5 separate regions of the Homo sapiens genome follow, and regions 1, 2, 3 and 4 are each linked to region 5. Evidence: fine-mapped expression QTL. A gene starts in region 5. Each other region holds a variant in brackets. All regions are shown on one strand. Distances are from middle to middle.

What was found.
Region 1: its variant is fine-mapped to the expression of RPL29 in whole blood (TOPMed, PIP 0.90).
Region 2: its variant is fine-mapped to the expression of RPL29 in whole blood (TOPMed, PIP above 0.99).
Region 3: its variant is fine-mapped to the expression of RPL29 in whole blood (INTERVAL, PIP above 0.99).
Region 4: its variant is fine-mapped to the expression of RPL29 in whole blood (INTERVAL, PIP above 0.99).

What each region holds. Positions count from the first base shown.
Region 1 is chr3:51,912,096-51,917,195 of GRCh38, forward strand. No RefSeq gene overlaps it. Among named protein-coding and RNA genes, the nearest start is that of IQCF1, 11 kb to the left of the region's middle. The variant AGACCAGCCT/A (reference allele first, on the strand shown) is at 2,062.
Region 2 is chr3:51,942,524-51,947,610 of GRCh38, forward strand. PARP3 (poly(ADP-ribose) polymerase family member 3) reads left to right here. Exons shown (of 11, transcript NM_001003931.4): 1 at 1-185; 2 at 831-1,015; 3 at 1,566-1,694; 4 at 1,867-2,055; 5 at 2,255-2,387; 6 at 2,475-2,701; 7 at 2,972-3,121; 8 at 3,330-3,416; 9 at 3,643-3,820. The coding sequence starts at 833. Among named protein-coding and RNA genes, the nearest start is that of PARP3, 2.7 kb to the left of the region's middle. The variant C/T (reference allele first, on the strand shown) is at 2,013.
Region 3 is chr3:52,021,187-52,026,286 of GRCh38, forward strand. No RefSeq gene overlaps it. Among named protein-coding and RNA genes, the nearest start is that of RPL29, 28 kb to the left of the region's middle. RefSeq lists an enhancer at 2,744-3,123. The variant T/G (reference allele first, on the strand shown) is at 2,016.
Region 4 is chr3:51,520,346-51,525,445 of GRCh38, forward strand. The region is part of intron 1 of LOC105377085 (a long non-coding RNA gene); the gene reads left to right. Among named protein-coding and RNA genes, the nearest start is that of RAD54L2, 16 kb to the right of the region's middle. The variant C/A (reference allele first, on the strand shown) is at 3,077.
Region 5 is chr3:51,993,046-51,998,145 of GRCh38, forward strand. It overlaps RPL29 (ribosomal protein L29), which reads right to left and starts at 2,850. Exons shown (of 4, transcript NM_000992.3): 1 at 2,812-2,850; 2 at 2,380-2,424; 3 at 1,997-2,061; 4 at 477-1,081. The coding sequence starts at 2,416. The coding sequence ends at 704. RefSeq lists enhancers at 309-1,041, 2,795-2,954.

The DNA of each region.
Region 1 (5,100 bases), 81 kb before region 5:
CTGAGGCGAGAGGATTGCCTGAGCCCAGGAGTTTGAGACCAGCCCAGACTCAAACATGTTGAGACCTTGTCTCTACAAAAAAATTTTTTTAAATTAGCCAGGCGTGGTGGCGTGCGCCTGTAGTCCCAGCTACTCAGGGAGGCTGAAGTGGGAGGATCACTTGAGCCCAGGGGTCAAGGCTGCAATGAGCCATGTTTGCACAACTGTGCTCCAGCTTGGATGACAGAGTGAGACCCTGTCTCAAAAAAAATTTGATAAATTAGACTTTGTCCAAATTAAAACTTCTGCTTATCGAAAGACAGCACTCGGCCGGGCGCGGTGGCTCACGCCTGTAATCCCAGCACTTTGGGAGGCCGAGGCGGGCGGATCACGAGGTCAGGAGATCGAGACCATCCTGGCTAACATGGTGAAACCCCACCTCTACTAAAAATACAAAAAATTAGCTGGGCATGGTGGCGGGCACCTGTAGTCCCAGCAACTCAGGAGGCTGAGGCAGGAGAATGGCGTGAACCTGGGAAGCGGAGCTTGCAGTGAGCTGAGATTGTGCCACTGCAGTCCAGCCTGGGTGACAGAGCAAGACTCTGTCTCAAAAAAAAAAAAAAAAAAAGAAAAGAAAGAAAGACAGCACTTAAGCTACAATCTGAGGAAAGAATATTCACAATACCTATATCTGGCAAAGGACTCCTACTCAGAATATAAGAACTCTTACAACTCAGTAATAAAAAACAAACTAATAAAAATGGACAAAAGGCTTAAACCAATACTTTATAAAAGAAGATATTCAAGTGGCTTCCAAACACATGAAATTTGCTCAACATCATTAGATATCAGGGAAAGACAAAATTTAAGCCACCATCATGATGGCCAAAATTAGAAAAAAGAAAAGAAAAGGAGAATACCAAATGTTGGCAAGGATGTAGAGCAAATGAAACTCTCATACATTTTTGATAATACAACCAATTTGGAAATTCATTTGGCTATTTCTTTTAAAATTAACCATATACCTACACCTACTCTCTGACTCAGCGATTTCATTCTTAGGTATTTACTAAAGAGAAATGAAAACATATTCACAAAAAGACTTGTACAGGAATGCTCATAGCATATACTCATAATAGTCAAACATTGGGAACAAGTGAAATATCTATAAATAGGATAATGGATACACAAATTGTGGTATATTCATAAAATAAAATACAATTGGGCAATAAATAGCCAAGAACTAATGATACATGCAATAACATGGGTGAATCTTATCCATGACATTATATTGAGCAAAAAAAGCCAAATGCAAAACAGAACATATTGTATAATTCTATTTATATCAAATTTAAAACATGCACATTTGTTGTGGTGGCTCATGCCTATAATCCCAACACTTTAAGAGGCCAAGGATCTCTTGAACCCAGGAGTTTGAGACCAGCCTGGGCAACCTAGGAAAACACTGTCTCTACAAAAAATGTTTTTAAAAAAATTAGCCAAGGATGGGTGTGGTGGCACATGCCTGTAATCCCAGCACTTTGGGAGGCCGAGGTGGGTGGGCCACCTGAAGTCAGGAGTTCAAAACCAGCCTGACTAACACGGTGAAACCCCATCTCTACTAAATACAAAAAATTTAGCCAGGAGTGGTGGCACATGCCTGTAATCTGAGCTACTTGGGAGGCTGAGATAGGAGAATCACTTGTACCTGACAGGCGGAGGTTGCAGTGAGCCAAGATCATGCCGTTGCATTCCAGCCTGGGCAACAAGAGCGAAACTCTGTCTCAAAAAAAAAAAAAAAAAATTAGCCAAGTGTGGCGGTGTGCACCTGTGGTCCCAGCTACTTGGGAGCCTGAGGTGGGAGGATCACTTGAGCCTGGGAGGTCAAGGCTGCAGTGAGACAGGATCAAGCCACTGTACTCCAGCCTAGGTGACAGAGCAAAACCCTGTTTTTTAAAAAAATGCAAAACTAATATATTATGATAGAAATCATGAACAATGGACCAGGCGTGGTGGCTCACGCCTGTAATCCCAGCACTTTGGGAGGCTGAGGCGGGCAGATCACCTGAGGTCTGGAGTTGG[AGACCAGCCT/A]GACCAACATGGAGAAACCCCATCTCTACTAAAAATACTAAATTGGCCAGGCATGGTGGCGCATGCCTGTAATCCCAGCTACTCGGGAGGCTGAGGCAGGAGAATGGCTTGAACCTGGGAGGCGGAGGTTGTGGTGTGCCGAGATTGCACCATTGCACTCCAGCTTGGGCAACAAAAGTTGCCCATCTCAAACTCCATCTCAAAAAAAAAAAAAAAAATCTCGAACAGTGGTTGCCTCTGGGAGTTGAGATTGATTGGAAAGGGACACAAAGGGACTTTCTGGGATGATATGAGTGTTCTATATCTTGATGAGGTGTGGATTTGAGATATATGCATTTGTCAAAATTCATTTAACTTCACATTTAAGATTTCTCCATTTCACTGTATATAAATTATACCTTCGCCTTTTCAAGGAAGGTGAAATAAAGACATTTTCCAAAATATAAAAGCTGAGATAATTTATTACCAGCAGACTCACACTGCCAGAATGCTAAAGGAAGGTCCCGGGTGGAAGCTCAGAGCAGCAGGTGGAAATGAAAGCCTCACAATGGTGATTATGTGGGCAAACAGAAAAGATCATCTTTTTAAATGTCTTTAAAATACCATTGAATCCAGTGCTGGCAAGATGAAGTAAGTACACTACAGACAATCTTTCCCAGTGATTACAATGGAAAACTCTGGACAGAATACAAAGTCAACTAGACTCTGAAAAGTAAACAATAGCGGCCGGGCACGGTGGCTTACGCCTGTAATCCTAGCACTTTGGGAGGCAGAGGCGGGCGGATTACCTGAGGTTGGGAGTTCGAGACCAGCCTGACCAACATGGAGAAACCCTCTCTCTACTAAAAATACAAAATTAGCCGGCCATGGTGGCATGCACCTGTAATCCCAGCTACTCGGGAGGCTGAGGCAGGAGAATCACTTGAACCCGGGAGGTGGAGGTTGCAGTGAGCCAAGATCGGGCCATTGCACTGAGCCTTGGCAACAAGAGCAAAACTCCATCTCAAAAAAAAAAAAAGAAGAAGAAGAAGAAGAAGGAAAGAAAAAGTAGCAATAGCACACAGATTGGGGAAGAAAGTCAAGTCAAAGTCAAAGATAGCCTAAAATGCAGAACCGCACAAGTGTGAAAGTAAATAATCCAAAAGAAAGTCCTTATTTTGGATCAGAGGATCAGAAAAAGACACTTCCTCATGCTAGAGAGTATGGACAGCATCCTTCTTCTTTCTTTCTTTCTCTTTTTTCTCTTAGCCCTACCCCAAGGCCAGGCCCAGTCACAGAACCGCATTGTCCCGGTGGTGGTGCTATGGGCACCTGAAAAATCATCTCCCTAGCTAGAGTAAATGTACAAACGGACGGGACCCCTGTAGTCTGAAAGAAGTAATTTTTTCTCATTTCTTTTGCCCCTTTGCCCTGAAGGCAGCTCTAGTCACATGGAACTGCATGGAAGTGTGGTGGTCTAAAACTCTGAGACAAATCCATATTTCTGGCCAGAGGAACCAAGAACATAATCTCTAGGAGTGGAAGAATGAGGAAAGTTCAGAAAATAAGGAAAAAGGAATCCCCTAATTCTGTGTATAACAAACACATGTCTCAGGCTCACGCCTTAGCTGCACATAATAAATCAAAAATAAAATTCTAAGCCCCCAACCACCTGAATGGACCCCTCCTCTTGGGCAAGGGCACTCCAGAGTTAACCTGTAAAACTAGTTCAGGCCATGATGGAAAGTGGGAGTCAGACATGCCTCATTACTATTAATATCAACACAGACCTTAAGACTGATAGAACAGACTCTTTAAGGCTGATAAGAAACACATGCAATCTATTTTCTCTAAAGCCTGCTACCTGGGGCCTCCATCTGCATCATAAACCCTTGGTCTCTGCAACCCCCTTATAACCCAGACATTCCTTTCTATTGATTCCAAGTCGTTAGATAATAACTCAACCAATTGCCAATCAGAAAATCTTTGAATCTGCCTATGACGTGGAAGCCCCCACTTCCAGTTGTCCCGCCTTTCCAGACCACACCAAGGTACATCTTACATGTATTGATTGATGTCTTATGACTCCCTAAAATGTATAAAACCAAGTTGTAGGCCGACCACCTTGGGCACATGTCATTAGGACTTCCTGAGGCTGTGTCACAGGCATGTCCTTAACCTTGGAAAAATAAACTCCTAAACTGAGACTTGTCTCGGATGCTTTTGGTTTACAGCATCCTTTGAAAAATGAACTACAACAAAAAACCACTACCAAGTCCCAAACTAACCCCTACGTAGCACATGCAAGGGCAGACTCAAACAGCATAGAAAAGGCTTTGAAAACTGACACTGACATTAGAATCATCATCCACGGAAAGCAAGACAAAGCCTCTGACCTTTACGTAACTGATTTGCCTGCTAAAATAAAAACTAAACATTGTCCAGAGATGTAATATTTAAACTGTCTAGGATGCAATCCAAAATTACTCAATACGTGAAGAGCCAGGAAAATCTGATTAATTCCCAAGGGAAAAGACAATCAGTTTTTGCCATTCCCAAGTCACTCACGTGTTGGAAATATCAAAGACTTTAAAGCAGTTATCATCACCATTATCCATGAAGCAAAGGTGAACCCTTTTTTTTTTTTATTTTTGAGACAGAGTTTTGATTTTGTTGCCCAGGCTGGAGTACAATGGCGTGATCTCAGCTCACTGTAACTTCTGCCTCCCAGGCTCAAGTGATTCTCCTGCCTCAGCCTCCCGAGTAGCTGGGATTACAGGTGCCTGCCACCATGCCTGGCTAATTTTTGCATTGTTTTAGTAGAGGCAGGGTTTCATCATATTGATCAAGCTGGTGTCAAACTCCTGACATCAGGTGATCCGCCTGCCTCGGCCTCCAAAACTGCTGGGATTACAGGCATGAGCCACGGCGCCTGGCTGAACTCTTTTTAAATGAATAGAAAGATAGGAGCTCTCAGCAAAGAAATAAAACAAAACAAAAATATAACCAGGGCCCTGCCCTCCCTCTCCCTCAGGAGGGCAGACAGGTCCA
Region 2 (5,087 bases), 51 kb before region 5:
CCAAATAGCCGATGTCTAATCCCCCACACAAGCTCATCCCCGGCCTCTGGCGATTGTTGGGAATTCTCTCCCTAATTCACGCCTGAGGCTCATGGAGAGTTGCTAGACCTGGGACTGCCCTGGGAGGCGCACACAACCAGGCCGGGTGGCAGCCAGGACCTCTCCCATGTCCCTGCTTTTCTTGGGTGAGTGTCCTATGGTCCTGCCCACGGCAGGGCAGGGCAAGGCCTGGTGGGACTGGCCTTTGCCCTCTATCAGTTCAAGGCCACTGATCCGGAGTTCTGGCTCCTCAGAACTCTTGAGTCCATTGGGAAGGGCTTCTACAGCTCTGGGTTCTAAGCTCCGGGAGGATAATCTGGCCCCAAGAATCCTGCCCCCAGGATCCTCTGCCCACCCTCCCCCATAGCTCGGTGACTCGGCCCGGCAACCATGCCAGGGCTGAACTAGCTGACACAGGGGGAGGAGCCCCGAAGTGGAAGAGAGAGAGCCTCCTTTCACTTTCCCTACCCCTCAGGACACACAGGTGAGCTGCAGAGGGTAGGGAGCCAGGCAGACCCTGTTGACCAGAGTGGGCAGACTGGACAGAGTCCTAACCTTGCACTTGGGACTGGGGAAAGGGGTGTTTCTGAGTGACAAAGAGCTGGGTGTGGTCTGGGGCTGGGAATGCCGTCAGAGTGGACACAGGATGCAGTGGGAGGCCACCGAAGGGCCAACCCGGGGTGGGGCAAGTTGGTGCTGTGCTGGCCCAGGGCAGGGGTGGGGACTGAGAGTGGGTCGTTGGGGATGAGGAGACCATGGAGGCCTAAGGGCCTCTCTGTGCCCCAGGACAGCCATGGCTCCAAAGCCGAAGCCCTGGGTACAGACTGAGGGCCCTGAGAAGAAGAAGGGCCGGCAGGCAGGAAGGGAGGAGGACCCCTTCCGCTCCACCGCTGAGGCCCTCAAGGCCATACCCGCAGAGAAGCGCATAATCCGCGTGGATCCAACATGTCCACTCAGCAGCAACCCCGGGACCCAGGTGAGCTGCAGTCCCCAGTCAGGCCCAGAGCCTGCCCACTGATAAGCACAAACACACCCAGGCCACCCCCTTAGGACTCTGTTCTGGTTTTGGAGCCCAAGGCCCCCAGGTAAGCGCCAGAGCAAGGCCATGTTCTCCTGACCCCAGACATCAGGGCTGTGTCCCGTCAGGTCCAGGCGGGTCACATCTGCCCTTCAGACCCCATGCAGGCCTCCTCCCACCGCACTTAGGGAAAGGCTGTGACTACATCAGTCTCCTGGGCGCTTGCCCATGTCCCCTCAGGGCAGAGCCATGTCCCTCTCAGATTCCCCCATCCAGGGCCCAGCTGTGTCCCCCCCAGCACCCCCCATACCTCCATGTCAGGGTTTAGCCATGTCCTCTCACACCGCATCCCCTAGGGAAGAGCAGTGACCCCCCCAAGCTTCCAAGACAGGGTCCCTCTGACTCCCACTGCCGTCAGACTCCTGTCCCCATCAGAGCCCTCTCGGTGTACGGCCAGGCACCCCATCTGACCCCAGCCAGCCTGCCCCCCACCTCCCCTCTGGCCCAGGTGTATGAGGACTACAACTGCACCCTGAACCAGACCAACATCGAGAACAACAACAACAAGTTCTACATCATCCAGCTGCTCCAAGACAGCAACCGCTTCTTCACCTGCTGGAACCGCTGGGGCCGTGTGGTGAGTGCCCTGCCTGCTCTGCACATACTCCCCAGGGTCCTCAAAAGGCCACAGCTACTGACTTGGGGGGGCACCTCCCAACTGTCCCAGGGCACTCAGCACAGGGCCTGGCCCGACACACAGGCCAGCAAATGCTGATGGTGGGCATACCCCTGAAGGCTGTCGGTTGCAGGGAGAGGTCGGCCAGTCAAAGATCAACCACTTCACAAGGCTAGAAGATGCAAAGAAGGACTTTGAGAAGAAATTTCGGGAAAAGACCAAGAACAACTGGGCAGAGCGGGACCACTTTGTGTCTCACCCGGGCAAGTACACACTTAT[C/T]GAAGTACAGGCAGAGGATGAGGCCCAGGAAGCTGTGGTGAAGGTGAGATGGCCAAGGAAGGTGGGCAGGCCCTGGACTGAGGGAGGGGACTCGTTGGAGAGTTCCCGCTGGTTGGGCTCTGCCACTGCCCAGCTGCGCAGCCTCAGCCACAGAACTCCCCTCTGGCCTCAGGCTGGCTGGTCTCTGTCTGGTGTCACGCCCTGCCCCGCTGCTCCTGCCCACATGTGCCCTCTATCTTCAGGTGGACAGAGGCCCAGTGAGGACTGTGACTAAGCGGGTGCAGCCCTGCTCCCTGGACCCAGCCACGCAGAAGCTCATCACTAACATCTTCAGCAAGGAGATGTTCAAGAACACCATGGCCCTCATGGACCTGGGTGAGGGGTGAGAGGCAGGCAGGGTGGCAGGGGCCTCAGGGTGGCAGGGCTGTGGGGCTGAGTCTCCCCACTCCCCTGTCCCCCTAGATGTGAAGAAGATGCCCCTGGGAAAGCTGAGCAAGCAACAGATTGCACGGGGTTTCGAGGCCTTGGAGGCGCTGGAGGAGGCCCTGAAAGGCCCCACGGATGGTGGCCAAAGCCTGGAGGAGCTGTCCTCACACTTTTACACCGTCATCCCGCACAACTTCGGCCACAGCCAGCCCCCGCCCATCAATTCCCCTGAGCTTCTGCAGGCCAAGAAGGACATGCTGCTGGTGAGGGCTGGCAGGGGTGCGGGCAGGCAGTGGGGCACTGAACAGACAGCCTAGGCGAGCGAGATGAAGGGCAGGTGGCCAAGAAGGCCCAGAAGGATGGACTGCCTGGGCAGGCTGACAGACGGGTGGGGAAGGCTGGGCAGACAGATAGGGTGGGGAGGGACAGGTGGGACACACAGGTGGGGTGGCTACAATACCAGTCATGTGAGAGAGGAGAGGGGAGGCCAGAGGTCAAGTGGGAAGACAAACTGCCAGGGCCCATCATCCTAGGTGCTGGCGGACATCGAGCTGGCCCAGGCCCTGCAGGCAGTCTCTGAGCAGGAGAAGACGGTGGAGGAGGTGCCACACCCCCTGGACCGAGACTACCAGCTTCTCAAGTGCCAGCTGCAGCTGCTAGACTCTGGAGCACCTGAGTACAAGGTGAGTTGGGCCCCACAGAGGGGCCAGGCTATCAGTGGGCACTGTCCCTCTGCCCACCTGCCCTCGAGGTGCCCAGAGGAATACTCGCCCTCAGCCTTCTCTTCCTGTGTCTCCAGGGCCTGAGGAGGGCTTGGGACTGGGGGAAGAAAAATGGGGGATTAGCTCCTGAGCCTCCCACCCTGGCAACCAGCTTCTGCTCTCCCCACAGGTGATACAGACCTACTTAGAACAGACTGGCAGCAACCACAGGTGCCCTACACTTCAACACATCTGGAAAGTAAACCAAGAAGGGGAGGTGAGGGAGGTTCCCCCACCTCTCCCCCATCACCACTGTGCCTTAGGAAGATGTCCTTGGCTAATCGGTCCCTTAGCAAATCGTTTAGCAGCTCTGGTCAGTTTCTGCCGGCCATGAGTGCGCGTGAGTAAGCAGAGGGACACTAGGCCTTGGTCACAAGCAGCAGGGCAAGGCGACTGAGTGCTCGGGTGGCATCACTCCCATTTCTCACTTCCTCTCCACTCAGGAAGACAGATTCCAGGCCCACTCCAAACTGGGTAATCGGAAGCTGCTGTGGCATGGCACCAACATGGCCGTGGTGGCCGCCATCCTCACTAGTGGGCTCCGCATCATGCCACATTCTGGTGGGCGTGTTGGCAAGGGCATCTACTTTGCCTCAGAGAACAGCAAGTCAGCTGGATATGGTGAGGTGCCCCTCTGGGCCAAGCCCTGGGAGGGTTGGCACTAAGATGGATTGGGCCCAGTCCTTGGCCACTGGAAATTCATGGTGAATCCAAGAGAGGAATCCTTTAATGGTTAATGACTACAGTGCTCAGTGGGCTGTCCTGGGCTTTGGTGGCGGGGGGTCTTAGAGAAAGTGTCTGATGGTCAGGGATGGCTTCCTGGGGGAGGCAATACAGATAGGATGGGTGCACCAACCAGACCTGGGAGGGGGTAAAAGGGGAGCCTTTGAGCCAGGTGTGGTGGCATACACCTGTAGTTCCATCTACTCTGGAGGCTGAGGCAGGAGGAACGCTTGAGCCCACAAGTTTAAGGCTGCCATGAGCTATGATCACACTCCAGCCTGTGTGACAGAGCCAGACTCCATCTGAAAAAATAAAAATAAAAAAGAGGAGACGTCAAGGCAAGGGGATAGGCAGAGAGGCTGGGAGGATGTGAGGATGTGGCAGGTCAGGGCTTCCAAACACTTCCTGATACTGGAGCTCAGAGCAATGCCTAGCCGGGGGCAGGGTGGGCTAGGGGCCCAGAACGATCGAGGAGGCTTTATCCAGAGAGTGATGGTTAGCCCAGCTGGACTTGTCTGTAGCAGGATCCCAGTGGCTACAGCTGTGGAGAGGGGGGCAGCAGCCAGAGGCTGCAGAGAGGCCATCCTCTTATCCAGGCTGGATGTGATGGGTGCCTGGCCCAAGGGCTGGGAAGTGCAGGGGAGGGAGCCCATGAGAGGGGCATGTAGGAGATGGGATGGGGAGCGTGTGGGAAAGGGTCAAGGCTGTCTCCAGTGACTTCTGAGTTTCTGGCCAGGAGTGTCCTCACCAAAATGACCCCCCCAGACCAGCTCCTCCACCCAGGCTGTCCCCATCATTGGAGGCCACCACCCAGCTGGCCAAGAGAGCAAGGACCAAGGATTCATCCCAGAACAGATGGGGCTGAAGTTCTAGGATGCCTGAGGTCACCAAGAGCAAGGGGTCCACCAGGAGGGCAGAGGGGCTTAGGAAAGAGTGGCGGGGTGGAGGGCTTAGGAGAGCCAGCGCGAGGAAGTCCCAGGTAGGGGCTGATGATGTCAGGAGCAAAGTCAGCAGAGCAGGCCAGGGAGAAAAGCCCCTGCCACGGGTTTGGTCACTGGGAGGCCATTGCTGACCTTGGTGAGGACAGCAGAGGGTACAGATGCCTGGCCATAGGGAGCACAGTGAGGTGGGAGGGAGCAGGCCGGGACAAGGAGGGAGTGACGGT
Region 3 (5,100 bases), 28 kb after region 5:
GGATGTAGGCTGAAGGAGACCTGGCTCTAGCTTAGGAATGTAAGGAGGGAGACAGGCCCCTGGCCTTTGGAGCTGGTAGAGGGGGTTTATTTCCTAATGGCTGGTGGGGACTGGGGTGCTGAGGGGTTGTCTCAGACTGACTTCACTTCTCCATCCAGGAAATGAGCTGGCCTAACTCTGCCTGGATTTTCCTCAGCCCCTGGGGAGGGTCCTTGCCTTTGAGCTGGGGTAGGGAGAGACTGGCCACCCTCAGAGACCGGGTTCCAAAGGAGCCTCTCCCGGGATGGGCCCAGGGTGGCTGCCACCTCCTACCTGCTCCCTTGCCCCCCATGCCTTCGGTTCTCCTAATGTCCTAACATCCACATGCTCTCCTGCTCTGGGGCCACTCTCCAGGCAGTCTTCCTAGATTGATACAGGCTGGGAGGAACCATGTTCCCAACGCCCAAAGCAGGCCTGGAGCACCCCTGCCTGCCCCTGCTCTTAGGAACCCTCCCCAGCAAGGCCTGGCCTGAGGCCGTGGGCCTCCACCTTCCTTTTCCTGTTCTTTTCTCGGTGCTGCCTCTCTCCAGGCTGTCTCCTACACAGCAGCCCTCTGGTTCTCCCTTGTGTCTCTCCATCTTGTTTCCCTGGGTTTTATCTTTGTCCCTTGGTTTCAGACTCAGACCCGGCTGTGTCTCTGGTTCAGTCTCCATTCTGCCTCTCTGCCTCTGCAGTTGGACTGGTGACTCCCTGTCCCCTCTCTAGCTCTGCTTGGCTCTCTCTTGTCCTGTCTCTGATTATCTCCACCTCTTTGTCATTGTGACTCTGGAACCCTCCCTGCCTGGCCAGGATGCCTGCTCAGACATCTGCTCCAACTGCCACGCACTGGGCCCCATGAAGAGCTTAGGGGACTTGTAGTCTCAGCTCTGGCCCAGTGCCAGGGGAGCTCCTGTGATTCCCAGGAGGCAAGCGAGGGAGAGACGAGACAGAGGGCCGCGTGCCTGCTCTGCTTGTCCCTTGGGGAGCCTAATGATGCTGGGCCTCCCCTTGGTCAGGCCATTGGCCATGCCCCCCCACCCTGGCTCCCAACTCCCAGCACCACATGGCTCATGGTCACCCCCAACGCCCCCACTATGGCTGTGTGACCCTGGATGAGTTTCTGAGCCTCAGTTTCCTCTTCGACAGAGTGGAACCAATTCCAAGGCCAGCTTCAGCAGGCATCAGAAGGTTAAATGTCAATGCACATGGCAGGCATCTGGCACTGTGCCCAGCATGCTGTGGCGCTCAGTAGAGTCCCCGTTACCATCACTGTGGCGGTTATTCTTCAGGATCCCCAGAGCCATGGCCAGTCGGATGGGGGCTGGGTGGAGCCTCTGCTGCTTGTCCCCATGTGCACCCTGCGTCCCACGCCCGTCCTTCCTCTGCTGGGCAGTAGACGCCCCCACAACCTGGGACCTGCCTGTCTTCGGAGCCAGTCTGAATTGTACACAGTGATGCTCACCCAATTAATTTTCACTGGCTTGGGGATATATTTTTTTTAAGAAGACATTTTTCCAGGGGGAAAAACACGCAGGAGCTATAATTAGTTGGGAAGAGGAAAGAAGAGCGGAGTGTGTGAATCACCAGCCCCAGTGACAGACTGTTGGAGCCGAGCAGAAGTTTCAAGAGAAGCCACTGGGTTGTGGGTGAGTTGGGGTGGTGTGTCGTGGGGATGGCGCGCTGCCGCAGGCAGGCTGGGGTCCTGGAACACCAGGTCCAGGGATGGGCACCTTCACCCCTCACCCTGAAGAGTCTTTTGCCCCGCCTCTCCCCAGACCCTGTCACCCGACACCCTATCCCAGCGTTCAGCTTCCCTGCAGCTCCTGTCTGCCCTGACTGACCCCAGGACCTCTCCCCTCCCCAGTCCTTGCTGACACAAGCCTGAGCAGAGAGACTAGCACTCAAATGAGGAGAGAGAAACTGTAGAGGATTTGAGCTCCAGGGTTTGGAGACTGTCCAGTCCAACTCCTTATTCATTCATTCATTCATTCATTCAT[T/G]CATGCATGCATGCATTCATTCACTTAGTCATCAAATACTGAACTACTGCTCTGTGCCTAGCCCACAGACAAGCAAACTGAGGCCCAGGGAAGTGCCAGGCCTTGCCCAAGGCCATACATCTGTGAGTGGTGCAGCCTCTCTGCCTGTCCGTCATCACTAGCTCTGCTGAGCCAGGCCCTGGCCAGGGCTCTGACCACCAAGGTGACCACAACTGGAACCCACTCTCACAGAGCCCCTATCCCAATGGGGAAGCAACCAGGTACCTGTTAGACAAGGAGCCTGGAGGTAGTTCCTGACCAGCCTGGTGGACATGGAGGACTTCCCAGGGGAGGAGGAAAAGCAGCATGACAGCGGCCATCATGCTGGGAAGGACCTTAAATGACTCAGTGTGCCTAAGCTCGGGGAGTGGCAGGAATTGGGGTCAGGGTTGCTAGAGAGTGAGGCTTCTTGGACCAGGTCATTACAATGCCCATTTTGCCCACATTTCTCCTGAGCTCCTGCCTGAATGGGCATGACCTGCTGGCCAGGGGCACCCTGGGGCAATGCTCACCATGTGGACTTGGTCCTTGGAGACCCTCCACTAGTTCTTCCTGATGCCGGGAGCACCAGTCAGTCAGTGGACCGGACAGTCAGTGACCAAGGAGTGTGGCCCTGGGTTTCTCCCTCCCTCCTTCTCCCCTGGCTGAGGACCGGCTGCCTGACTCTCTAGGGGCCCCAGCTCAGGCCTCAGGAGGGAGCACACTGGAGCAGTGTGGCCTGGAACTGAGAGCAGAGGCCCCAGGTCCCCAGGGAGGGGATGCTTCCTCCCCTGGGAGAGCGTGGCATCATTCGGCACACAGAGAGCTCCCTTCTAACCCCAGACCAAATTAGCCTTCCAAATTATAGGCTGCGTTTCCTCTAAATTGGAGACTGGGTGGGAGAACAGAGGCCCGGCTCTCCTTCCTGCTTCCTGTTCACAGAGGGCCCTCAGTTGGTCTAGTCCCAGATCACAGGACCACATTCAGAAAGAATTCAGGACACACACACCCTCCTGCCCCTCAGTTCAGGGATCCCCAGGTCCCAGACCAGCATCCAGGGCTCAGGGGAAGCCTGTACCCTTCTGGGGTTTGACAACGAACTTAGAGCCAGCATGGTTCAGATAAGGCCAACCCAGAGTTCTGAGGTCATTTTCCGGGGGGAAGTCATTCATTCAAAAAACACTTTCTGGGTACATTCTCTGTGCCAGGTACAGGACAGAATGAGAAGGTGCACAGGTGGCTGTGGGAATGCCTGGTGAGGTTAGGGAGGGCTTCCTGGAGGAAGAGGCATATAAACTGAGACCCCAAAAAATGAATGTGCTCTTGGTGAGGGGAAGAGAGGGGAAGACAATTATAGGAGGAAGGAGCATTGAACGAAAATCCCAGGAGCAGAGAGTGAGGGAGTGGGCATCAAGAAGTGGGTGGAAACATTGGTTTGTCCAGATTAGGGGGTGGGGAGGAGTGTCAGTCAGCCACATTGGGAGGATTGCATTTCATCAGGGAGGAGGCCTTTGAGCAGGGGTGAGGGGGTGGGGGGTGCTGTGCAGAAGCAGGGCTGGACCCATTGCCTGACCCAAACAGAGGGCTCCTTGGGATCTCTCACACTGGCCTCCCTTAGGCCCCTTCCACATGGCCTCAGGCCTTTGGAGAAATAATTAAATTTACTTCAAGGAAAACATGGGACACGGGTTTTATTTCACGTGACCTGAAATGAAGGTGGCTTCCTATGTTTTTGCTAATTGACTTGGGACTTTTTGTGGTTTTCTTTTAGAAGAAAATTATTCTAGATGTTGAGAATAAGTGCAATTATTGTTTGGTGCTGCATGCAGAAATAAAAGGAAAACACCTCCCTGAGCTCACCCACCCCTGTGTTACAGAAGAGACAAGTGAGGTGGGGAGGGGAGGCCCCATAGCCGTGGCAGCCACAGTGATTGCTCCGGGGCAGGAGAGGGATGGCTTTCAGGGCTCAAATAGGACAGAGGATGCTTAGTGGGGAATATTCCTAACGGGGTGGAAGAGAGGAACTGGGAGATCCTCCAGCTCCTGATCTCACTTGCATACCTCTCCAGACACAGAGCTCACTGCTTACCAACTGCCTGGTAAATTTGCCCAGCTGCAGCTGTTGGACAGTCCTTCTTGAGTGAGGTGCTTCTCCCCTCAAACTCCCAGCCAAGGTTTTCTGCATCCTAACCTCTACCCACCCTCTGCCCCCAACTTTTCATCTTTCCCGCCTCGGCCTGAATGGAGTCTGGGGTCAGGGTGGACTCCGTGGGTAGGGCCCTGGGCTTCTGCAGGCTGCATAACACTAGCTGCCCATCTGATCTGTCCTGGGAATATGGCCCCAGATGGCTGAGGTGGGTTCCAGGCTAGAGCCTCCCCAGCTGGCTGCCAACATGTGCGCGTGAGGAGAGGCACACAGTCTGTTTCCTGGATGCCTGGCCTGTCAGCCTGCACATCCTGCCTGGACTGACCAGGTTGAGGACACAAGCCAGCGGGTAGAGGCAGGGCCAGACAATTTCATGGGCATTGACAGACAAGTGGAGCACCCCATTAGTGACCTCCCTCACTCAGCACACATCTGTTCGGCCCCTGCCACGTGTCTGGCCCTGTGATGGACACTAGGCCCTCAGAAATGAATTAGCCATGAACCCACACCCTGCCCTCCTAGACCAGGAGCCCTGGGTCTAGACAGGCATGGGGAGACCACAGGGAACAGTACAAAACCTGCAGCCCTGGCCACACCAGCAAAATCAACTCCAGACTTTTGGGAGTAAAATCCTACCGAAGCCACCTTCCACCCAGCAGCCAGAGAAGGACCTCTCAAAATCACCCCTGACCTCCTGCTCCTTCTGCATGGCCTGTCACGGCTCCCCAGTGCTGGACCTATGAGGCCCTGTGTGCCCCTGATCCCACCCACACTCCAGCCTCCTCCCTGGAACTCGACTCCCTCCCTCCACTCCAGCTGCCCCAAATGCTCTCGGGTTTTCATGGTCCCTCTAGCCATCTGGCCCTTGCCCAGGTTTTTCTCTCTGCCTGGAATATGTTCTCTGTCCTTTTCACCTGCTAA
Region 4 (5,100 bases), 470 kb before region 5:
GTTTTACAGAGGGGAAGATGGGCTAAAAAGACCCCAAAGGTGTCTCCTATAGCTCCTTCAGGGAGTATTTACCTTGTGCTCCCCTCTTGCAGTGGTGTAACTACCACTGCCTGCTGCTGTTCTAACTCCTCCAATGGACATTTAGGCTTAGGACAGAAGCCAAGTGGTATAAATCCATCTCCAGGACCAAAATGAAATTTACCCAAAAAGTATTTGTGGGGTGAAGTGCAAAGAAAGCACAGAAAAAGGGCTGGCCTTCAGGTTCTTGGAGCCATCACAAAACAGGTCATGTTTGGGCTGGGCATTAGAGGGAGTAGATTTACTAGCTGGGAGGGAAAGATGACCCTCTGGCTTGAACTGGACCAGTCACACATTACTGTGCATCCAACCCATTGGGTGACTGCTATGGGATTAGGATAAGGCCTGGAAATGGGTGAGGAGTGGCCAAAGGAAGGATTTGACTCTTAAGTGTCTGAGCCAAATATTTCCTTTTCTGAACCCCCCTTCTCACAGGAGTTAAGGCTGTATTATAATTATGTTTGTTGGCCGGGCGCAGTGGCTCATGCCTGTAATCCCAGCAGTTTGGGAGGCTGAGGCAGGTGGATCATTTGAGCTCAGGAGTTCAAGACCAGCCTGGCCAACACGGTGAAACTCTGACTCTACTAAAAATACAAAAATTAGCCAGTCATGGTGGTAAGTGGCTGTAATCCCAGCTACTCAGGAGGCTGAGGCAGGAGGATCGCTTGAACCCAGGAGGTGGAGGTTGCAGTGAGCCGAGATTGTGCCACTGCACTCCAGCCTGGGCAATGGAGTGAGACTCCATCTCAAAAAAATGAAATTATGTTTCTGCACCTGTTTCTCCCAGGGGCCTTAGGGACTGTGAGGTTTTCATCTCTGTATAACAAATCCCCTGGGTCTGTTGGGTGAAACTGAATCACCAGATGGTGAATGTGTGGGCAGTAGCAACCCTAATAACCTTTTCAATACATGCTCACAGAAGCCAATCCTTGTCCAGATTTTAGGGCTACTGCAGTAGACTGACCTGGTCCCATCTGGAGCAATCAGACACAATTCCAGTAAGAATGGGATGCTACAATCTAGATAACTGCAAAAGTGCAGCTCAGTCTGGGGAACCCAGCTTACCTTATGTAATTGCTTTTTTTTTTTCGAGACAGGGTCTTGCTATGTTGCCCAGAGTACGGTGGCATAATCAAACCTCACTTCAGCCTCAAACTCCTGGGCTCAAGCAATCCTCCCATCTCAGCTCCCCCAAGTAGCTGGGACTACAGATGTGCACCATCACACCCAGCTATTATTTTTATTTTTGGTAGAGATGGGGTCTCACTATGTTGCCTAGGCTGGTCTTGAACTTCTGGGCTCAAGGGATCCTCCTGCCTCAGCCTCCGAGAGTGCTGGGATTATAGGCATGAGCCACCATACTTGGCCCATTTAGCACTTTAAAAAGTGTTTATAGGCCATTTCCCAATTTCTCGCCACTGTAAGCATGTTATTCCTGTTTTACAGATGAAGAACCTAGCTCAGGGAGGTTAAGTAGTTTGACCAATGTCACAAAGCATGTGAAAAAAGCTAGTCCCTCCCTCCCATCCCTAAGGAAGATCCTTTCATTGCTTTGAGGGAGTTATGGCCCCTCCTAAACATCCTAAGTTCTCTCCAGACCTCAGAGCCTTATCAGTGGGAATCATTGCCCTTTCCTTCCTCAGAGAAACAGAAATTGTGTGCCTGCTATGCAGAAGGCATCGTCCCTCCTCCCTTACAAACACCTGCTCTCAGAAAAACACCAGCACCAGCATAGTGAGACCTCGTCTCTACAAAAAAAAAAAAAAATTAGCCAGATGTGGTGCTGCACACCCGTAGTTCCAGGTACTCAGGAGGTTGAAGAGAGAGGATCAATTGAACCCAAGAGGTCAAGCCTGCAGTGAGCTATGATCATGCCACTATACTCCGGCCGGGGTAATGAAGACCCTGTCTCTGGAAGAAAGAAGGAAAGAAAGAAAGAAAGAACGAGTGAGAGAGAGAGAGAAAGGAAGGAAGGAAGGGAGGGAGGGAGGGAGGGAGGGAGGGAGGGAAGGAGAGAGAAAGCACCAGCATAACAGTCATTTACCTCTGAAGTAAGTAAAGTAAATGCACCTACTTTCTCACTGTGTAACATATGCTTTATTTGAATTCACAGATCTGGGTTCAGTTTATGGTTCCACCAGTTACTGGCTGTAAGATCTCAGGTAGCTCAATCACTCTGAGCTTCAGTTTCCTTTTCTTTAAAACTATGGTAAAATTCATATAACATAAAGTCATTTTAAATGAGGAATTAGGTGGCATTCAGTACATTCACAGTGTTATGCAACCACCACCTTATCTAGTTTATTTCTTTTTTGAGACGGAGTCTCACCCTGTCGTCCAGGCTGGAATGCAATGGCGCAATCTCGGCTCACTGCAACCTCCACCTTCTAGGTTCAAGCGATTCTCCTGCCTCAGCCTCCCAAAAAAAAGTAGATGATATTACAGGCATGCACCACCGGGCCTGGCTAATTTTTTTGTACCTTTAGTAGAGACAGGGTTTCGCCATATTGACCAGGCTGATCTTGAACTCCTGACCTCGTGATCTGCCTGCCTTTGCCTCCCTAAGTGCTGGGATTACAGGCGAGAGCCACTGTGCCTGGCTTTTTTTTTTTTTTTTTTGAGGAGTCTTGCTCTGTCCCCCAGGCTGGAGTGCAGTGGCGTGATCTCGGCTCACTGCAACCTCCGCCTCCCGGGTTCAAATAATTATCCTGTCTCAGCTTCCCGAGTAGCTGGGAGAATAGGCCCACGCCACCATGCCTGGCTTTTTTGTATTTTTAGTAGAGATGGGGTTTCACCATACTGGTCAGGCTGGTCTCGAACTCCTGACCTCAGGTGATCCAACTGTCTCGGCCTCCCAAAGTGCTGGGATTACAGTCATGAGCCACTGCTCCAGCCTCTATCTAGTTTCAAAACATTTTCATCACCCCAAAATAAAATCCTGTACACGTTTTTTGTTTTACATTTTTAAAATTTAATTTAAATTTTAATTTTTTTGAAA[C/A]AGGATCTTGCTCTGTCACCCAGAGTGGAGTGCAGTGGTAAGATTACAGCTCACTGCTGTCTCAAACTCCTGGGTTCAAGTGACTTTCCCACCTCAGCCCCAAAATAGCTGAGAGTACAGGCACGTGCCACCACATGTGGCTAATTTTTAATTTTTTTTTTTTTTTTTTTTTTGAGACAGAGTCTTGCTCTGTCACCCAGGCTGGAGTGTAGTGGCAAAATCTCGGCTCACTGCAAGCTCCGCCTCTCGGGTTCACACCATTCTCCTGCCTCAGCCTCCTGAGTAGCTGGGACTACAGGTGCCCACCACCATGCCCAGCTAATTTTTTGTATTTTTAGTGGAGACGGGGTTTCACTTGTTAGCCAGGATGGTCTCGATCTCATGACCTCGTGATCTGCCTGCCTCAGCCTCCCAAAGTGCTGGGATTACAGGCGTGAGCCACCGCGCCCTGCCAATTTTTAAATTTTTTGTAGAGATAGGCCAGGCTGGTCTTGAACCCTTGGGCTCAGGTTTTCCTCCCACCTCGGCATGAGCCACTGCATCCAGCACTTTTCACTTTTTGGATAATGTCTGTGATTTCCCAACCTTTAAATTTTGATAAAGTCCAATTTATCTATTTTTATAATGCTTTTTTTTTTGAGATGGAATTTTGCTATTCTTGCCCAGGCTGGAGTGTAATGGTGCGATCTTGGCTCACTGCAACCTCTGCCTCCCAGGTTCAAGCGATTCTCCTGCCTCAGCCTCCTGAGAAGCTGGGATTACAGGTGTGTGCTACCATGCCCGGCTAATTTTGTATTTTTAGTGGAGATGGGGTTTCTCCATGTTAGTCAGGCTGTTCTCCAACTCCCGACCTCAGGTGATCTGCCCACCTCGGCCTCCCAAAGTGCTGGGATTACAGGCGTGAGCCACTGCCCCCAGCCTTTATAATGCTTTTTTATTGTGACAAAATATATGTTACAAAATTTACTTTAGATTTTTTTTAAATTTTTTTTATTTTTATTAATTTTTTTTTTAGACAGAGTCTCTCTCTGTTGCCCAGGCTGGAGTGCAATGGCGAGATCTTGGCTCACGGCAACTTACGTCTCCCAGGTTCAAGCAATTCTCCTGCCTCAGCCTCCTGAGTAGCTGGGACTACAGGTGCACACCACCATGCCCGGCTAATTTTGTATTTTGGTAGAGACAGGGTTTCACCACGTTGGTAGGACTGTTCTCAAACTCCTGACCTCAGGTGATCCACCCACCTCGGCCTCTCAAAATGCTGAGATTACAGGCGTGAGCTACTGAACCCAACTCATTTTAGCTATTTTTATTCATTTATTTATTTTTCTCAAGAGGGAGTCTTGTTCTGTTCCCCAGGCTGGGGTGCAATGGTGCGATCTCGGCTCACTGCAACCTCTGCCTCCTGGGTTCAAGCGATTCTCCTGCCTCAGCCTCCTGAGTAGCTGGGACTACAGGCACGTGCCACCATCCCTGGCTAACTTTTTGTATTTTTAGTAGAGTCGGGGTTTCACCGTGTTGGCCAGGCTGGTCTCAAACTCCTGACCTCGTGATCTGCCCACCTTGGCCTCCCAAAATGCTGGGATTACAGGTGTGAGCCACCATGTTCAGCCCATTTTACCTATTTTTAAGTGTACAGTTTAGTGGCGTTACATTCATATTGTGCAATCATCATCACCATCCATCTCCAGAACTTTTTCATCTTCTCAAACAAAGTCTGTACCTATTAAAGAATAACTGCCCATTCCCCACTCCCTATGGCCTCTGGCAACCACCATTGTACTTTCTGTCTCTATAAAATTGACTATTCCAGGTACTTCATATAAGTCGAATATATAATATTTGTCCCTTTTATGTCTGGCATAATTAACTTAGCATAATGTCTTCAAGGTTCACCCATATTATAACATGTGTCAGATTTTCCTTTCCTTTACAGGCTGAATAATAGTCCATCAATTTATACACCACATTTTGTTTATTCGTTTATCTGTCTGTGGACACTTGGGTTGCTTCTACTTTTTAGCTAT
Region 5 (5,100 bases):
TCCCCTCCCTTGCAGTAAGCTTTAAGACCTCATGAGGATGTTTAAGATTTCTCCCTTTGGGCCAGGAGCACTGGCTCACGCCTGTAATCCCAGCACTTTGGGAGGCCGAGGCAGGCAGATCACAAGGTCAGGAGATCAAGACCATCCTGGCTAACACAGTGAAACCCCATCTCTACTAAAAATACAAAAACAAAATTAGCCGGGTGTAGTGGCAGGCACCTGTAGTCCCAGCTACTTGGGAGGCTGAGGCAGGAGAATGGTGTGAACCTGGGAGGCGGAGCTTGCAGTGAGCCGAGATGGCACCACTGCACTCCAGCCTGGGTGACAGAGCACGATTCTGTCTCAAAAAAAAAAAAAAAAATTTCTCCCTTTGCTCGGCAGGTTACACAGTCCAGCAAGCTATGTGCCCGAGCTTCCCAAAAGCCCCCAATCATTTCTCATTCATTAGGTCCTCCTCTTGCACTTCAGGGCCCCATCTCCTGACTCCCACCCACACCCCACCATCCAGACCCATGTCTTCTCCCACACCAACAGATGGAGCAACCAAACCCATCCCCAGGATCATAGACAGAGGCTAACAAATCCTGCCTCAGGTTTATTTGTACAAATAGCACAGGAGGACCCCAGCCCCATGCAGATGGTAGCCCAGGGGCGGGGGTGGGGGGTCGCACCAGTCCTTCTGTCCTCATGTTGGCAGAGATATCTACTCTGAAGCCTTTGTAGGGGCCTGGGTACGTTTGGGAGCCTGAGCTGGAACTGAAGCTGGGGCTGCAGCCTGGGCCTTGGTTTGATCCTTGGCCTTGGCCTTGGCCTTGGCCTTTGGCCGGCACAGCCTGAGCCCCTTGGCAATACGGGCACGAGCACGCTTCCCAAGCTTGGGGTGGGCAATGTAGGCAAGTCGATCGAGCTTGCGGCTGACACCCTTTGGGATCTTGGGCTTAACCTCCTTGGGCTTTACGAGGGCCTTGATAGCCTCGGCACGTGCACTCATGGCCTTGGCATTGTTGGCCTGCATCTTCTTTAGGCCCTTTTTGTTGTGCTTCTTGGCAAAGCGCATGTTCCTCAGGAACTTGGGGTCCACCTGAAAAGCAGGAAAGGTACAGGTGGCAGCATGTGGGTCCCCAAGTCTCTCCCTGCTGCCCCTCTCCATAGGGGTACCCAGCATTCTAAAGACAGCATCAAGTCAACCTCAAATGTGGAAATACCCAACCTCTTGAAACTATTTCCAGAGAAAGTGTACCACCACCCCAGGGAGCCAATACGCCACCTGGGTAATGCTGTGCAGACCTCCTTCAAGAACAAAATTACAAGCTGCTTTGCTGCCCTGTCTGCCAAGGTTGTGGGGCTTCAACTTCCTACAGCAGGGGTTCGACCAAGTTTTTTCCTGACATCCCCTCAGGGACACCCCCTCCCCTCTTTAGAAGAAGGTGTCAATTAAATACCAAGTCTGGTCCAAAAGACTTATAGCCAAGGTGGGATATGGGGAAACTGAGGCTCAGAGTTTGTGATTCACTCCACGGAACAGAGAGCAAAAGTAAAGGGAAGGAACAGACTGGGGACATGCTCAGCTCTCCCCTAGACCCTCCAGCCTTCTCAGCTAATCCTTAGAACCCCCTGACACAGGAAGAGAAGCTGACCCCAACTCCAGCACTGGGTCAGATGGAGGTCATAAGGCTGGTCAGTGTGGGAATGTGCCCTGCACGCACTCAGACAAGGCCACTCCTTACCCTAAGTGCCACTGCCAAGCAAGGGAGATAGCCAAACTGCCCTCAGGAGGCAGGTTACACCCTGACCAGAGGGTTACACTTCAGGCTGTGGAGACCAAGGAAAGCTTTATTATGGGTCTGGTAGGGTAGAAAAAGGAATTGCAGGCTTTGGGTGGGCCAGTTAGGCTGTGCTCAGGCAGAAGCCAAAGCTAGAGAAAAACTACATGAGAGGCCTTGACTGTGCACCTGGAACCAAGAAAAGACACTTCCATGTGATTCAGTGCACTCACCCCCTTAAGAGATTCGTATCTTTGTGATCGGGGTTTCTTGATACCATTTCTGTGCCATTTTCGGGCTGTGGGAGAAAAAAAGGGAATTAAGCCAACAAAGAACTTTCCTCTAATAAGACCACCCAACATCACAGCTGGCAAGTCTGGGAGAACCAACACTTCCTACAGCAGCTACACTTGAGATATGGGAAACCCTTACTACTAAATGCAAAACACTCTGTATCTCAAGTAGATCTCTAAACCTATAAACCCTAAAGTTATTACTGGGTGAAATCAATCAGCCTCAGGCCCACAATGGAAACGTGCCCCTTCATCTCTGTCCCAGTTTGCCTGAACCAGTCCTTGCCAGGGTCTGGGATGTAGGCAGGGCCCAAAAAACTTACACTGGTTGTGTGTGGTGTGGTTCTTGGACTTGGCCATGTCTGCACCTGGAAGACAAAAGTGGAGATCAGGGTTAAGGGCTCGCCAGGCTGGGCCACCTCTGCCCCCCCCATTCTGGTCAGAATGAGCCTGCAGGCAGAGAATGTGCAGCCTCCACGAGTCTCGGCTTACTCTGCACGACCAAACGCCAGTCCTGGCCTCCCAAACCCAGGTAATGATGCCCTGAAATCAACTCCTTACCCCCGGAAAGCTGCATTCCCCAATAAAGTGGCTTTCCCTGCCATCCCCCTCCTAGGACCTAGAAGCACCATTCCCACCCCGCAGCTTTTGCTCCCGACAGACACACGGTCGGTCACCAGTCCTCTCCGCAGCCCGCGCCCCGCCGCCACCCGTAAGTCGCGGATGGCATCGGATGCCGCGCGGCCAACACTCACCATAAGCCGCGGCTCCCGAAGCGCCTAGAACCGGAAGAGAAAGGGGCTGCGGTGCAGCACGGGAAATAGGGTCAACAACGCCGGAAAGTACTACTGGAAAAGCTTCCCCAGGCTCCGCGAAGAAAAGTTCCGAAGCCCGGAAGAACGCAAGCCAGACGTGGAGGCGGTGCTACGAGCTTGCCTCCGCCCCCTTCAGGCTGCCTCCTCCCTTCTCTGTTTCTCCAGGACCTGTCTCTTAAGTCTTATTCAAGATACTGAAAAAGAAAGGAGTCCTTGAGGGATGTTGTTGGGCAAGAAGATCTGTGTTCTTTTTCTTTTTTTTTTTTTTTGAGACGGAGTTTCGCTCTTCCACCGAGGCTGGAGGGCAGTGGCACAATCTCGGCCCACTGCAACCTCCGCCTTCCGGTTTCAAGCGATTCTCTTGCCTCAGCCTCCCGAGTAGCTGGGATTACAGGCGCCCACCACCACGCCCGGCTAATTTTTACATTTTTAGTAGAGACGGGGTTTCACCATGTTGGCCAGGCTGGTCTCGAACTCCTGACCTCGCGATCCGCTCGCCTCTGTCCCCCAAAGTGCTGGGATTACAGGCGTGAGCCACCGCACCTGGCCGATCTGTGTTCTTAAAAGCACCCCTGTAATCCCAGCACTTTGGGAGGCTGAGGTGGGCGGATCACGAGGTCAGGAGTTCCAGACCAGCCTGGACAACATGGTGAAACCCCATCTCTACTAAAAATCCAAAAAAAAAAAAAAAAAAAAAAAAAAAATTCACGGGGCGTGGTGGCACGTGCCTGTAATCCCAGCTACTCTGGAGGCTGAGGCAGGAGAATTGCTTGAATCTGGGAGGTGGAGGTTGCAGTGAGCCAAGATCGCACCATTGCACTCCAGCCTGGGCTACAGGGCGAGACTCTGTCTCAAAAAAAAAAAAGAAAAGCACGCCTGACTCTTTCGTGGAGAAGGAGCAGAGGGGAGGAAGGAGAGAGGGCTGCCTGGACCTGAGGGAGGACAGTGGGAATGCAGAGGAGTGGACAAAGAAAGAGTACTGGACTTGGGACACAGAAGATGAGGGAGAAAAAGGAGGCAAGGATAGCCCCTATGTCTTTGGCTTGACAACTGGGTGAATGGTGGGCTGTTTACAGAGATGGAAGATTGAGTGGGGAGCAGGGGCTTTGTTTGTTTTGTTTTGAGGGGGAATGATGAGCCAGATATTTTTGTTGGATGCATTAAATGTGAGATGCCTGTTGGACATCAGAATTGAGAAATTGTTGCCTCTAACAACTCTGTTGCCTTCTCCACCTCTTCCCCCTATAGTTCATTTTCCACACGGCAGTGGGGCTTGGGGACTTGTTTTAAGATACAAATCAGATCCTGTCCCTTAAATCTGCAAGGACATCCCCTTGCATTGAAGATCAATTCTTTACCCACTTGACCCTGACAACCTCTGTCATTTACTTCTCTCCAAACGCATTGCCTTTCTTTCCTGCCAACCACAAATGTGTGTTCTGCCTCAGGACCTTTGCACTTGCTATCCCAGCCACCTGGACTGCCCTTCTCCCTGCTTTTTGGATGGTGTGCTCTTTCCTATAGAGGCCTCCCTGGACTCCATTATCTAAAATAGAGAACCACTGCCTCATCTCACCAGTGATTCTGTGTCCTCTCATGGTTTCCTTTCTTTTCTATTCTTTTTTTTTTTTTCTTTTTTTTAGACAGTCTCACTCTGTCTCCCAGGCTGGAGTGCAGTGGTGCGATCTCAGCTCACTGCAACCTCTGCCTCCCGGGTTCAAGCGATTCTCCTGCCTCAGCCTCCTGAGTAGCTGGGATTACGGGCGCACACCACCACTCCCAGCTAATTTTTAAAGAATTATTTTTAGTAGAGACGGGTTTTCACCATGTTGGCCAGGCTGGTGTTGAACTCCTGACCTCAGGTGGTCTGCCCGCCTCGGCCTCCCAAAGTGCTGGGATTACAGGCGTAAGCCACCGTGCCCGGCCATGGTTTGCTTTCTTTATAGAACTTTCCCAGACTCTAATTGCATTGTTTACTTAGTTGTGTATGTGTCCATTATCATAGGAGCCCAGAGTTTGGGACTGGTTTGATCACCTTCATTTTCCCACTGCCTAACTCAGCATAATGTAGATAGAGCAAGAGCTTAATAAACACATGCCCAGTGAACGTTCCTTGACAAGCCAGGTTCGTGGAGTGACAGACGCATACTGCAGAGGTTTAGGGAGTGAAGCGGAAAGGAGGTTGTGGAGGCAGGACATGTGGATGACTCATTACCAAAGCATTCCTGA